Regions from separate parts of the Homo sapiens genome. Here regions 1 and 3 are each linked to region 2. Evidence: fine-mapped expression QTL. A gene starts in region 2. Each other region holds a variant in brackets. All regions are shown on one strand. Distances are from middle to middle. Region 1 overlaps XXYLT1 (xyloside xylosyltransferase 1). Region 2 holds the start of FAM43A (family with sequence similarity 43 member A). Region 3 has its middle 91 kb from the start of LINC01972.

What was found. PIP is the estimated chance that this variant, and not a neighbour inherited with it, causes the effect.
Region 1: its variant is the best candidate, but not a certain one, in a credible set for the expression of FAM43A in whole blood (INTERVAL, PIP 0.54).
Region 3: its variant is the best candidate, but not a certain one, in a credible set for the expression of FAM43A in whole blood (INTERVAL, PIP 0.73).

What each region holds. Positions count from the first base shown.
Region 1 is chr3:195,110,410-195,114,648 of GRCh38, forward strand. All of the region lies in intron 3 of XXYLT1 (xyloside xylosyltransferase 1), which reads right to left. Among named protein-coding and RNA genes, the nearest start is that of XXYLT1-AS1, 18 kb to the left of the region's middle. The variant G/A (reference allele first, on the strand shown) is at 1,836.
Region 2 is chr3:194,684,189-194,688,427 of GRCh38, forward strand. FAM43A (family with sequence similarity 43 member A) reads left to right here and starts at 1,695. Exons shown (of 1, transcript NM_153690.5): 1 at 1,695-4,239. The coding sequence starts at 2,639. The coding sequence ends at 3,910. It overlaps LOC124909474, which reads right to left and starts at 2,721. Exons shown (of 3, transcript XM_047449428.1): 1 at 1,672-2,721; 2 at 1,150-1,230. The coding sequence starts at 2,065. RefSeq lists enhancers at 1,425-1,784, 2,536-3,041, 3,042-3,545 and silencers at 2,525-2,714, 3,545-3,844.
Region 3 is chr3:194,857,123-194,861,361 of GRCh38, forward strand. No RefSeq gene overlaps it. Among named protein-coding and RNA genes, the nearest start is that of LINC01972, 91 kb to the left of the region's middle. The variant T/G (reference allele first, on the strand shown) is at 2,250.

The sequences.
Region 1 (4,239 bases), 430 kb after region 2:
GTGCGTCTGTGGTGTATGTGTGCGTGTGTATGTGGTGTAAAGTGTGTGTGGTGTGTGGGTGAGGTGTGTGTGTATGTGGTGTATGTGTGCATGGTGTGTGGTGTATGTGTGCGTGGTGTACGTGTGCGTGTGTGTGGTGTGTGTGTGGTGTATGTATGTGGTGTGTTGTGTGGTGTATGTGTGTGTGTGCTGTATGTGTGCATGTGTGTGGTGTGTGTGTGGTGTGTGATGTATAAGTGTGTGTGGTGTGTTGTGTGTGGTGTATGTGTGTGTGTGCTGTATGTGTGCATGTGTGTGGTGTGTGTGGTGTGTGTGTGTGTGCTGTATGTGTGCATGTGTGTGGTGTATAAGTGTGTGTGGTGTGTGTGTGGTGTATAAGTGTATGTGGTGTATGTGTGCGTGTGTGTGGTGTATAAGTGTGTGTGTGGTGTGTTGTGTGTGTTGTATAAGTGTGTGTGTGGTGTGTGGTGTATGTGTGCGTGTGTGTGGGTGAGGTGTGTGGTGTGTGTGTGTGGTGTGTGTGAGGTATGTGTATGTGGGTGGGGGCAGGGTGATATTTATTTTCTAGGGCTGCCACGACAAAGTACAAACCGGTTTGCTTAAACAGCAGACACTGATTGTCCGCAGTCCTGGAGGCTAGAAGTCTGAGATCATGGGTCGGCAGGGCTGGATCCCTCTGAGGGCTGCGAGGCCGAGCCTGTTCCAGGCCGCTCCCCTAGCTTCTGGTGGTTCGCTGGCAATCTTTGCTATTCCTTAGCACGCAGAAGCAAAGCCGTGATCTGACTTCTCCTTTACGTGATGTTCTCCCTGTGTGTGTGTGTCTGTGCCCAAATTCCTCTTTTTATAAGAACACCAGTCATACTGGATTAGGCTCGACCATGAGGACCTCATCTTAACAAATGACATCTGCAACGACCCTATTCCAAATAAGGTCACATTCTGAGGGAGTGGTGGTTAGGGCTTCAGCGTATGAATTTCTGAGGAACACATTCAATCCATAGCAGAGAGGGGAGATGGGGAGAGAGGCTGGATGGGGAGCAAGGGGAAAGGAGGTGGCGGAGAGGGTCTGGCTGGGCTGAGTGGGCTGGGCCTGTGTGTATCTCTCTGGCTAGGATGGCGCTCCAGGGGCAGGTGTCTGATGGTGCTCAGTGTCTCTCATGACGGGAGCATCTGTCACTGTGAACGTCTGTAAGCAGCAGGTAAAGGACACGCTGATTGTGACCAAGCTGAACGAGTATTATACTATCACTGGCCCACCCATCTACCACTGGTACTGACTCGTGAAGCCTATCTTTTCTCACAGAATTCCACTGTCTTCAACGTGGTAAGATTAACAGACAGACTTCTAACATAAGCTGTCTTCACAGGGCCTTGAGGCTGGATTACCTCAGTTACAACAAAACAGAATTTTCAAAAATAGGAACTCAACTTAAAGATTTAAAATTGAGGTAAAGTGGCCTTCGGAAAAATATGTAAATACAAGATCATTTGCTCGCCCCAATCGTGGAAGCTTGATTCAAATAGCGCGTGCCTGCTCTACATGCAAAGTGAACATCCTGATTGCCTGTAAATGCCTCAGGAACTCATTTCTTCTACAGTTTACTTGGCATTACTATCGCTGCAGAAATGTGCAAATGAGACGGGTGCTAATATCAATCAGTACATTGGTATATACCAAATCAGCTTAAGTGAGGACAAGATAGTTATAATTATTCTTAAAACCCACGAGACCATTTCTAGCCGTCAGGAGGGCCCATGAACTAGGAAACTGAGGCTTGCTGACATCTCAGCGACACCTGGGCAAAAGCCTACTGGAATCCGGGTCAGGTTCTGTG[G/A]GCTGCCATGGCTGAACACTGGGCAAACACGGGTTTCGCTGATGCTTTGGGGTTCGCAAGCCCCAGAAGATCTGTCCACACTGATCCACTCTGCTCAGTTCTGAGGCAACTCGGGGCAGGGCCATCGAGCCCACCCACCCCAGCAAGGACTGCACGTGCGCACGTGCGCGCACACACACACATGCACACACACGCACGCACACCCACACGCATGTGCACACCCACACACATGCACACACGCATGGACACATGCACACACCCACACACACCCACACACACACACAGAGCCCCCAGCCCCAGGTGGGAACAGCTAGATGAAGCAGTGCACACACACGCACGCACACACACACACGCATGCACACACACGCACACATGTGCACACACACACCCCCATGCACACACGCAGCTCCCAGCCCCGGGTGGTGGGAATAGTTGGATGAAGCAGTGCACACACACACGTATGCACACACGCAGCTCCCAGCCCCGGGTGGTAGGAACAGCTGAAGCAGTGCGCGCATGCACACACACACACCCATGCACACACGCAGCTCCCAGCCCCAGGTGGTGGGAACAGCTGAAGCAGCGCACACACGCACACACACCCACACGCATGCACACACATGCATGCACACATGTGCGCACATACACGCAGCCCCCAGCCTCCAGCCCCAGGTGGTGGGAACAGCTGGATGAAGCAGTCAAGAGAACATGGGTTTCAAAATCCAATCTGGGTTTCAACTGCAGCCATGCCCCTCACTCGCCGTGCCATCCCAGGCAAGCTGTTGCTCTTCTTTGAGCTTCAGCTTCCTCCCAGATAGGAACATTAATCCATACCCAGAGGCTGTGTGAAGATTAAACAGCATTTCATATGAGGAGCCCTCGCACAGAGCCTGGCAAGAGCCACTCCTTGGTCCGTGGACCTTCCCGTCTTTTCTCCCTTCCACAGTAAGGATGGAGCCGCCTCAGGAAAACATCTCCCACTGATTTCGCCGCAACTGCAGGATGGAAACGGAGGTGAACATCTGGCGGGAGCTCGGAAAAACGCCAGTTTCTGACACTATCTTCGACAAGCCAGGGAGTTGGGAAAGCTTGGGAGGGGAGTGGTGCACTAACGTATATTAACACTTACTACGAGGCAGGCACCGTTCCAAGAAGCTGACATGTTTTCAAGAATCTTAATTCTCAGAACATCCCTGATTAGGTAGTACGCTTATCCTTAACATAGGGGGAAACTGAGGCACAAAGCGGTTTACTGGTTTGTCCAAGGTCACAGGGCTATTAAATAGTGGAGCCAGGACCTGAACCCAGGCAGTGTGAACCCAGCACTCACGGTCTTTTTTGTTAGAATCCTTTTTCTCTTTAATCAGTTTTGGATTTCCCCTCTGTTTCATGAGCTTTTTGCTTTACTTTTTAGCCATTCATTCCACAAACACCTACTCGGAGCCAGGCCTGGGAATGCCGAGCTTGGCTGAGGGAGCCTGCACAGCACCCACAGGACCAGGCAAAGAGGCGGAAAGGGGTGTGGCCAGGAGAAAGGGTTGTGGCCAGGAGAAAAGGGTGGAAAGGAGCCCTGGGCATTCTGATAGTGCCAGAGGGTGCTCCTGAGGCCGGCGGGCAAAGAATGCTATGAAGAAGGGGTGTCTGAGTTGGCCATGAATGACAGAGAGGATTTCTCAAGGTAGAGATGGGTGAAGAGAAGTCCCTCCAGGTGGCAGGAACAGTGCAAGCAAAGATAAGCAGGTGAAAGCTTGGCACAGCATCTGGGAGCCATGAGTGCCCAATTTGGCTAGAGCGTACTGAGTCAGTGCCAGGTCACAAACGCCTTGAGTGCCAGACCCCTGGGTTGAAGATTCTGAATGCATTCCAAGATTCAATTAAGGAAGCAGGATGATCTGCCCATGATTTTGCCCACTTATGGTGGCAGCCAATCATCCTGCAACAACTGTGCCCCAGTCCACACGCTTCCAGGGAAAGCTGCATTGGGTGGCCCCCTTCTCGCTCCTCCACGTGAAGCCCTGAACTCAGCTGCCCAAATTTGTTTCTCCACAAAGTACAGCCACACCATTGCACCCAAAATGGAGGATCTGAGGGGCCAAGGAATGACTACTGCCTGGAGAGCCGGGAGACACGGAGCATCACCTTCCACCTGCGTTGAGCTTCTTTTCATTTCACTCCATGTACTAAATAAGCCATTTTGAGCACCTGCTCTGTGTACGGTCCTGTGCCTGGGTCCCATGAGACCCAAATCATTGTCATTTCTCTAGCACTTGAAACACATCTGTCCCCCTACACCCACAATCACATTATACAACCATGTCATCAACAAGTACATTTCTACTAAAAAGTTCCTGCTCATGACAGTGCTGGGAGGACATCTCTTTACACGTTTAATTACGAAGACCAG
Region 2 (4,239 bases):
TTCCTATTTGGATAAATTCTGTTTATCTTTCAAAGGTCACCACCTCCATGAAGCCTTTTCTGATTTTCCTAGTCACAATGAATGCTTTCTTCCTCCAGCTTCTCATAGTGCTTTGAGTCTTTCTCATAGCATTTAGCCCACTCTGTCTTCTTGTCCACATGCATATCTTGCTCATTAATTCTAGTTACTGAGTGCCTATTTGTACCATATTGGGGATACAGGGTACTTGCAGAGAACCCACAGTCCAGTGGAAACCCAGAGTTGGGTAGAGTTTACAACCTTCATTGGACTAGGAGGCAGGAATCCCGTCTGCTCCTAGCTCAGGGCCGGGCACCAAAAGGTAGTCAGAAAAGTAACTTAAATGGAAACTCAGCAAAGTAACTTAAATGGAAACTCAGCATCAACGACTCTGAGAAAATTGAGTTAGATTTCAAAGGAAGGTTAAAAGTTGGCAAAGGTAGAGGGTGGGCAGGGGTCAGTTTTATTTTGTTGGAATATCCCAAGGGAATTTCCAGGTATGGTTGCAGTGACTCTGGCATGAAGACCTGGCGTGGAAGCCAGAGACATCAAAGATCCCCAGGGGACTGGGATGGTGGGAAGGGATCACTGTCCTCCTCCAGGACCAGGCTGGGAGTTTGATGCAGGATCATTCGGACATTGATCCCACTCCAGCCATACGTCTTTTTGCTTTGACTGACCATACCATAGAGGCAAGCAGGCTGTTTCAAGGGCCCAGAAATGAGTTACTGGCTAAGGGTCAAGCCGGTCAGAAGACAACTACACTGTCCAGTTGGCACATGATAAAAGCAATACTGATGCAATTATCACTCCCATTGGAGGGTGGCCTGGCATTATTTGTCACTTAAATAAAAAACGTCATTTGAATTTTTACTAGGAATTCTCATCCAAAATATGTCAATGATAGAATGAAACCGCATGACCGGCTTGCCAAAGTAAACTAAGTCCTAACGACACACGAGCATTAGAAATTGTGTGTATCTCAGAAAACTGCTCTACCCTGAGGCCTGACAGCAGGAGGGGGTCTTGCCGGGGTTCGGACGGGGAAAAGCCTTATTCATTGACGGTATTCTACAGTAGTCACCCCAATCATGTTACCACTCACCTCACTTTACACTGTCTGCTGCTTACCTGTGAATACGAGCTCAAGATAGTGAGAGATAAGCCTTGGTGTTTTCTGTGCCTCTCTCTTTTCTTTAATGGAATACAATTCTGAAAATAATATTAAACAGCACCCAGTCATTCTCAGAAAGCCGTCACACAAGGAAGAAACCACTATTTTCCCAAACTTTTTGTACAGGAAATTATAATCTGTAATCTCATCTTCTGCCACCTCCCTCAGAAGTTTCGATCTAGACATACATGTATTCAGTGAGTGGCAATTCAGCCTGGGGGGTGGAGTGTCAGGATTCAAATCTTTTTGCTGCGGGGTAACCCCAGGTCCCAGTGATTTCCATAGACAAAAGAGATGCTGGTAAATTTGGGATGTAATTGGAGGATTGGACCGGTCTCCCCGCTCCCTCGACCAATGGCTGTCACGCGGTCCCTTTAAGAAACCAGGAATCCGCCCGGAGTCGGAGCCCAAAACAGATCCTCTTCTCTGCTCCTCCCCTGTCCCCGCGCGGCGAATGGTTCGCGCCGGCCTATATTTACCCGAGATCTTCCTCCCGGACGGCAAGGATGTGAGGCAGGCGAGCCGGACGCCGCTCGCAGCACCGGAGAGGGCGCACTGCAAAGGCGGGCAGCAGACCGTGGAGAGCCCGGGAGCGGAGCTGGACACCGCCTCGGAGGGAAGAAATGAGGTAGCGGCGGTTCCCGGACCCGGCCATGCCCGTCCCCTGTTCTCGGAGCCCAGCGCCGTCTCGGCCAGGCCAGCCCGGACACTGAGCGGGCCGAGCGCGAGTCCCCGGCGTCCGGCGGAGCGAAGATGCAGTGAGTCCCCGCGGGACTGCTGCGCGGGGCCCGCCGCGGCCAGCCGGACCCAGCATCCGACCGCACTTTGGGCGAGCTGCTGACTTGAGACCAGCCCAAACGGGGGGCTTTCCATCTCCAGCACCCCTCGGAGGTGGGGAGCACCGGCCCCTAGGCACACTCGCTGTAGAGTTTCCGCGGGTTTTGGCCCCAGTCCTGAGGGTTGTGTGTGTTAGGGGACCCACCTCACGTTCGCCGAGGAGTTCCTGCATATTCTTGCACCATCCCGGGTGCTGTTGCTGGGGCTCTCTTTATTTGCACGCGCGCTTCTAGCTTTTTTCCTGACATTTTCCACTCTACGCTCGTTCTTTCTCCCTTGCATTTTGTTGCTTGCCTGAGACTCTTTGCTCTCGCCCTTGCCCAGGCTGGGGTAATTCTGTGTGCGCGCGTGTCTCCCCCGCACCAACCTTTTTTGCACACTCGAAGCTGAATATTTTCTTTTTTAGAGAATTTACCCGCACCTCCTGCGGGGTTCCTAAGCACTCTCTCTGCTCCCCTCCCCCCAACTCCCTACCACAGGGCCGCTCCCAGTAGTTTTATTCTTCGATCTTGCCCGGGCCGAGCCTGGCAGGGGCCGGTGGCTCAGCGGGCCTCGCACCCGGCGCTCCGCCGCCGCCGCCGCCCAGCTGCGCCGGGGCGCCCTCCGGAGATGCTGCCGTGGAAGAAGCACAAGTTCGAGCTGCTGGCCGAGGCGCCGCCGCGGCAGGCGTCCAAGCCCAAGGGCTACGCTGTGAGCCTGCACTACTCGGCGCTCAGCTCGCTGGCGCGGGCGTGCCCCGAAGGCGCGCTTAGCCGGGTGGGCAGCATGTTCCGCTCCAAGCGCAAGAAGCTGCACATCACTAGCGAGGACCCAACTTACACCGTGCTCTACCTGGGCAATGCCACCACCATCCAGGCGCGCGGCGACGGCTGCACCGACCTTGCTGTGGGCAAGATCTGGAGCAAGAGCGAGGCGGGCCGTCAGGGCACCAAGATGAAGCTGACGGTGAGTGCGCAGGGTATCCGCATGGTGCACGCCGAGGAGCGCGCGCTGCGCCGCCCGGGCCACCTCTACCTGCTGCACCGCGTCACCTACTGCGTGGCCGACGCGCGGCTGCCCAAGGTCTTCGCCTGGGTGTACCGGCACGAGCTGAAGCACAAGGCCGTGATGCTGCGCTGCCACGCCGTGCTGGTGTCCAAGCCCGAAAAGGCGCAGGCCATGGCCCTGCTGCTCTACCAGACGTCGGCCAACGCGCTGGCGGAATTTAAACGCCTCAAGCGGCGGGACGACGCGCGTCACCAGCAGCAGGAGCTGGTGGGCGCACACACCATCCCGCTAGTGCCGCTGCGCAAGCTGCTCCTACACGGACCCTGCTGCTATAAACCGCCGGTGGAGCGCAGCCGCAGCGCGCCCAAGCTTGGCTCCATCACCGAGGACCTGCTCGGCGAACAGCTGGAGCAGGAGCTGCAGGAGGAAGAGGAAGAGGAGCAACCCGAGGGCTGCCCGGAGGAGGAGGAGAACCGTGCGGCAGAGGGAGATCCAGCAGAGGAGGAGGCCGAGGCGCAGCGTGCGCTAGTGGTCGCCATGCACTTTGAGTGCGGGGACTTGTTGGATACTCTGGAGAATGGCCGTGGGGAGGCGCTAGGAGGCGGCGGGGGCTCCCTGGGCCCGGGGGCCGGGCCGCCGCCTCTGCTGCTGGGCAGCGCCTCCGACATGAAGGCTGAGCTGTCGCAACTTATTAGCGACCTGGGCGAGCTCAGCTTCGGCAACGACGTGCGCACCCTGCAGGCCGACTTGCGGGTGACGCGCCTGCTGTCAGGCGACAGCACGGGCAGCGAGAGCTCCATCGAGGGCGGGGGCCCTGACGCCACCTCCGCCACCGCCGGGGACTCGTCCCGCCAGGCCGACGGCGCCAGTGCAGACGAGCCCCACTCGGGCTGAGCTCCTCCGCGCGTCGCCGGCGCTCCACCGTGGCTACCCATCCGTGGTCCCGACAACCTCCCTGTCCCTTGCCCGCCCCCAGGAAGGGGGAAATGGGGCATTTGGGGCCCAGACCTACACTTGGAGCCCAGGTCCAGCGTTCCCCCGACCGCTTTCCCCTACCTCCCGGCCCCCGCTCCCGCCCCAGCACTTTTGGCTCTGTTGCGCGTGGGGATGCGGGGAGATTTGAGAGGGGAAAACCCCGCCAGGAGGGAGAGAGAGGCACCCCTCTGGGATGCGGGTGAGGGAAGGTTGGCTGAAGTTCCTAGTCTCAGGCCGTAGGTGCCTGG
Region 3 (4,239 bases), 170 kb after region 2:
TACATTGTTGGGGTTTTCCCTCAAAACAAAAATCTGGGGTAACCCCTCAAGTGATTAGCCTAGCAGGACTGAGAGGCCCTGCCCCCCGTTCTCCTTGTGGGCCCTTTGCACCGCATGGCTGTTCACAGCCACCAAAAGCCTCATGTGCCTTCTGAGTCCTCTCCCAAGCACCCAACCTAAGTTACCAGAGGACTGGGAAGGAAAGGTAGGAGAATCAACCCCCCTCCCATCTGAGGGAGCCCACTCTAGGCATGTGATGCATTGCAGGATCAATGGCATATTGAAAACATCATAAAGATAACGCGTGTGCATCTTCTCCAGACACCCCTTCTTGCTAATCCGCAGAACACAAGACGGAGTGTGTTGCATTCCTTAGAGATGGAACCATTGCCTCTTCAGTAAGGAGAGACTTTCAGCCCAAGAACTACATTTGGGGAGGCCTGGTAGCTACCCAACTTCACAGACTCTCAGCTCCATAGTGTCGCTGGAGTCTTCCCCAGCCTGTCCTGAATATGCACTCACACATACGCATTCCATTAAACCGCACTTGGTGTTTTACAAATAACAGGACTTCTTGCACTACACAGCTTAATACCCTCACTGCCAAACCTAATTATCGTAGTAACTCAAGCTCACACTAAAAGCGAGAGATGGGTCCACTTTAACCTTATCATGAATTAGTAAGTTTTCCCTCTGGAGATCCCTTCCCTGAAAATGTTCACTGAAGGTATTTAGGCCGAATTAACTATATTTATTTTAAGATCCTGCATGCAGTGAGTGTTCAGGGCTTTTGTTTAGAGTAAATGAGGTCATCGCCTGCCTCATTTCTTCTCTCCCTCTCTCTCCATGTCTGGTGGGGTCCCTGGTCAGGGAAATTGTGTGTCCCACATAAATGCCTCTTGGAAATTAAGTTGGAGCTAAAATAGATGGGGAGAACACTGGGCTTTTTTTTTTTTTTTTTTTTTTTTGTGAGATGGAGTCTCGCTCTGTCGCCAGGCTGGAGTGCAGTGGCACGATCTTGGCTCACTGCAACCTCCGCCTCCCTGGTTCAAGCAATTCTCCTGCCTCAGCCTACCAAGTAGCTGGGACTACAGGTGCATGCCACCACGCCCGGCTAATTTTTTGTATTTTTAGTAGAGACGGGGTTTCACTGTGTTAGCCAGGATGGTCTCAATCTCCTGACCTTGTGATCCACCCTCCTTGGCCTCCCAAAGTGCTGGGATTACAGGTGTGAGCCACTGCACCCAGCCCCACTGGACTTTTTTGAGAACCAGCTCTGCCACTGGCAGAAGCCCTGTGATCCTGATAAGTTACAATCTCTCTGAACCTTATTTTTTTTTCTGCAACATGAGGATTCCTGCCTATCTCATTGAATTGTTGCAGGTATCAAACGAGGAGAAAAAGCAAAAAGCCATGGCAGTGCTTCATAAACTCTGAACTATCATAAATGTAATCTCTTTCTGTTAAATGACCCTGGTTATAAAGCAGATTGCATAAGAAGTCTGCCTAGGTGTCAGGAGCTACCCAGTTTCTACTTGAAACACTGAAAAAAAATCCTTTCACTGAAAAAAAATCCTATCTTTCGGCTTCTCTGGTCCTGTTAGACACAAAGAGTTCTATTAGCAAAATAAGATGAAAGAAAATAACATGACTAATAACCATTAATAACATTATCGATAACCATAATGAAAACATTATTAATACCCATAATGATAATGGTAACAACTCGTATTTATTGAGTGCTTCCTATGAGGCCGGCACTGTCCCAAGCACTTGGTATATGTTTAACTCACTGATTCCCCTATTCTGCTCTGCTGGAGCTGGCCAGCGCAGGTTTAGGAAAGCCGTTCCTAAGGATCCAGGGTTCTTTTGAGCCATTGTCAAACCATTCATAAGTGAAAGTCAACCATGGTGGGAGTATTTACACCAGGGTAATGTGCAGATGCTACAAATCGAGGCTATTTATTTATGGAGCCCATTTACTAGGAATTAGATAGTCTCCTTTTTTTTTTTAACAGTTGGGAAACTGAAGTCGAGAGATTAGATGAAGATAGTAATGATTCCTCCAATGTTGGAATATTCTGTGTGGGTTGCTGATTCTTCTCTTCCTCCTCTTTCTTCTCCTAAACCTACTGTATGAGTCCATTTGTGTTGCTATAAAGGAATACCTGAGGCTAGGTAATTTACAACAGAAAGAGGTTTATTTGGACCATGGTTCTGCAGGCTGTACAAGAAGCATGGCGCCAGCA[T/G]CTGCATCTGGTGAGGCCTCAGGCTGCTTCCACTTATGGGGGAAGGCAAAGGGGTGCAGGCTCCACATGGCAAGAGAGGAGGAAAAAGACAGAGGAGGCAGGTGCCAGGCATTTCCTAACAATCACTTCTTTTGGAAACGAATAGAGCAAGAACCCACACATTACCAGAAGGATGGCACCAAGCCTTTCATGAGGGATCCGCCCCCATCACACCTCCCAGTAGGCCCCATCTTCAACAACGGGGATCAAATTTCAACATGAAATTTGGAGACAAAAATATGCAAACTATATCATCTTCCATTTGCTGTTTATCTTCCTCCATGATTATTTTATTAGTAATAACAATAACAAACCCATTTCTCATATTTCCTATAGTTCAGACATTTGTGCTGGGAGTCTTGAAGCCTTGGACTCCCGGTTTCTAGCCTCAACAGTTACACAGGAAGAAAGACATGTAAACGAGTGGTTCTCAATCCTGGTTGCACATCTGAATCGCCCAAGAAACTTTTTAAAAACGCCAACAGCCCTTGCCCCCTTCCAGACGTTGACCGAGCTGATTTAATTATCACCATTTCTAAGGCCCAGAGAAAGAAGTAACTTGCTCAGAGTCACACAGCAACTTATTGCTGAGTGAGGACTAGCACCCAGAATTTTACATTTTGAGTTCCAATTCTTTTCTACTACTCCCACCAATCAGTCAATCAACTTTTGATGGATTCGTGTCTTGCATACAGCAAGTGCTCCATGTAAAAAGCAAGCTTCAGCCAGGCATGGTGGCTCAAGCCTGTAATCCCAGCACTTTGGGAGGCCAAGGCAGGTAGATTACTTGAACCCAAGAGCTTAAGACCAGCCTGGGAAACATGGCAAAACCCATCTCTACAAAAAACACAAAAATTAGGTGGGCATGGTGGTGTGCACCTGTAGTCCCAGCTACTCAGGAGGCTGAGGTGGGAGGATCACCTGACCCTGGGAAGTTGAGGCTGCAGTGGGCCGAGATTGCACCACTGTACTCCAGCCTGCGTGACAGGAGTGAGACCCTGCCTCAAAAAAATAAATAAATAAATAAAAAGATAATAAAAAGCAAACTTCATGTGTGAATTAATCTTCAAAAGATATTCATTCCTCAGGAAGAAATTCCTTCTCAGCAGGACTCATCCGAACCATGGCAAGGCGACACAAGTGAAAGGCATGGACAGACCACATGATTTGCTCAGTCAATGGAGCTTTCAAAATCACTTGTCAAAAAATCGCCTGAGGAGCACTGGAAAGTTCTGTAAAAAATGAGGCCCGGAGAGGCAAAGACATTCAGCAAGCCAGTGTGCCAGGGAGTGAGTCCCAGCCAAGGACTCCTCCCGCCCCACCGCACTGCCCACCTCCCATACAGCCCTGGGGCCCCACTGTACATCCAGCTGCCTCCTAGGCTGTTTTCCCCTTTTCTCCCTCCCTCCCCTCTTTCATCTGTCAAATATTTAATGACCCTACAGCACAGGTCCTGGAACTTAATTAGTGCTCAGTACATATTTATTTTGGATGAATAAATAAATGAGCGATGCATTCCTCACAATTCTGGGCTCTGGGAGCTACAGAGGTGAGTGAGACACGGCCTCAGCCCTCAAGATGCTCAATGTCTAGGATGCGTTCGGAGGCACTGTGGGCTGGAGGAGGAAGCTCCGGCACTGCAGAGAGTCAAGTCTGCAGCAGGAGCCTGGCTCTGCACGGAAAGTGCCAAAGGGCTTGACGAGTGTGAGCCCAGCTCCCTCTTCACAAAGTGAAGATACTCATGCCTGCATCATGAGGTTGCTGTGGGGTTTAAATGACATTACATGCATAAGCCACCTCGAAAGTTGTACAGCACGTAGTAGAGATGTGATATTATCATTCGTACCTTGGACCAAAACTTGGAGAGCAAAAGAGCTAAGACAGCAGTCTAGAGCAGAAGCTTTGTCCCAAGTGATGGCTTGTCTCAAGGAGAAATCTGTATCATTCCTTG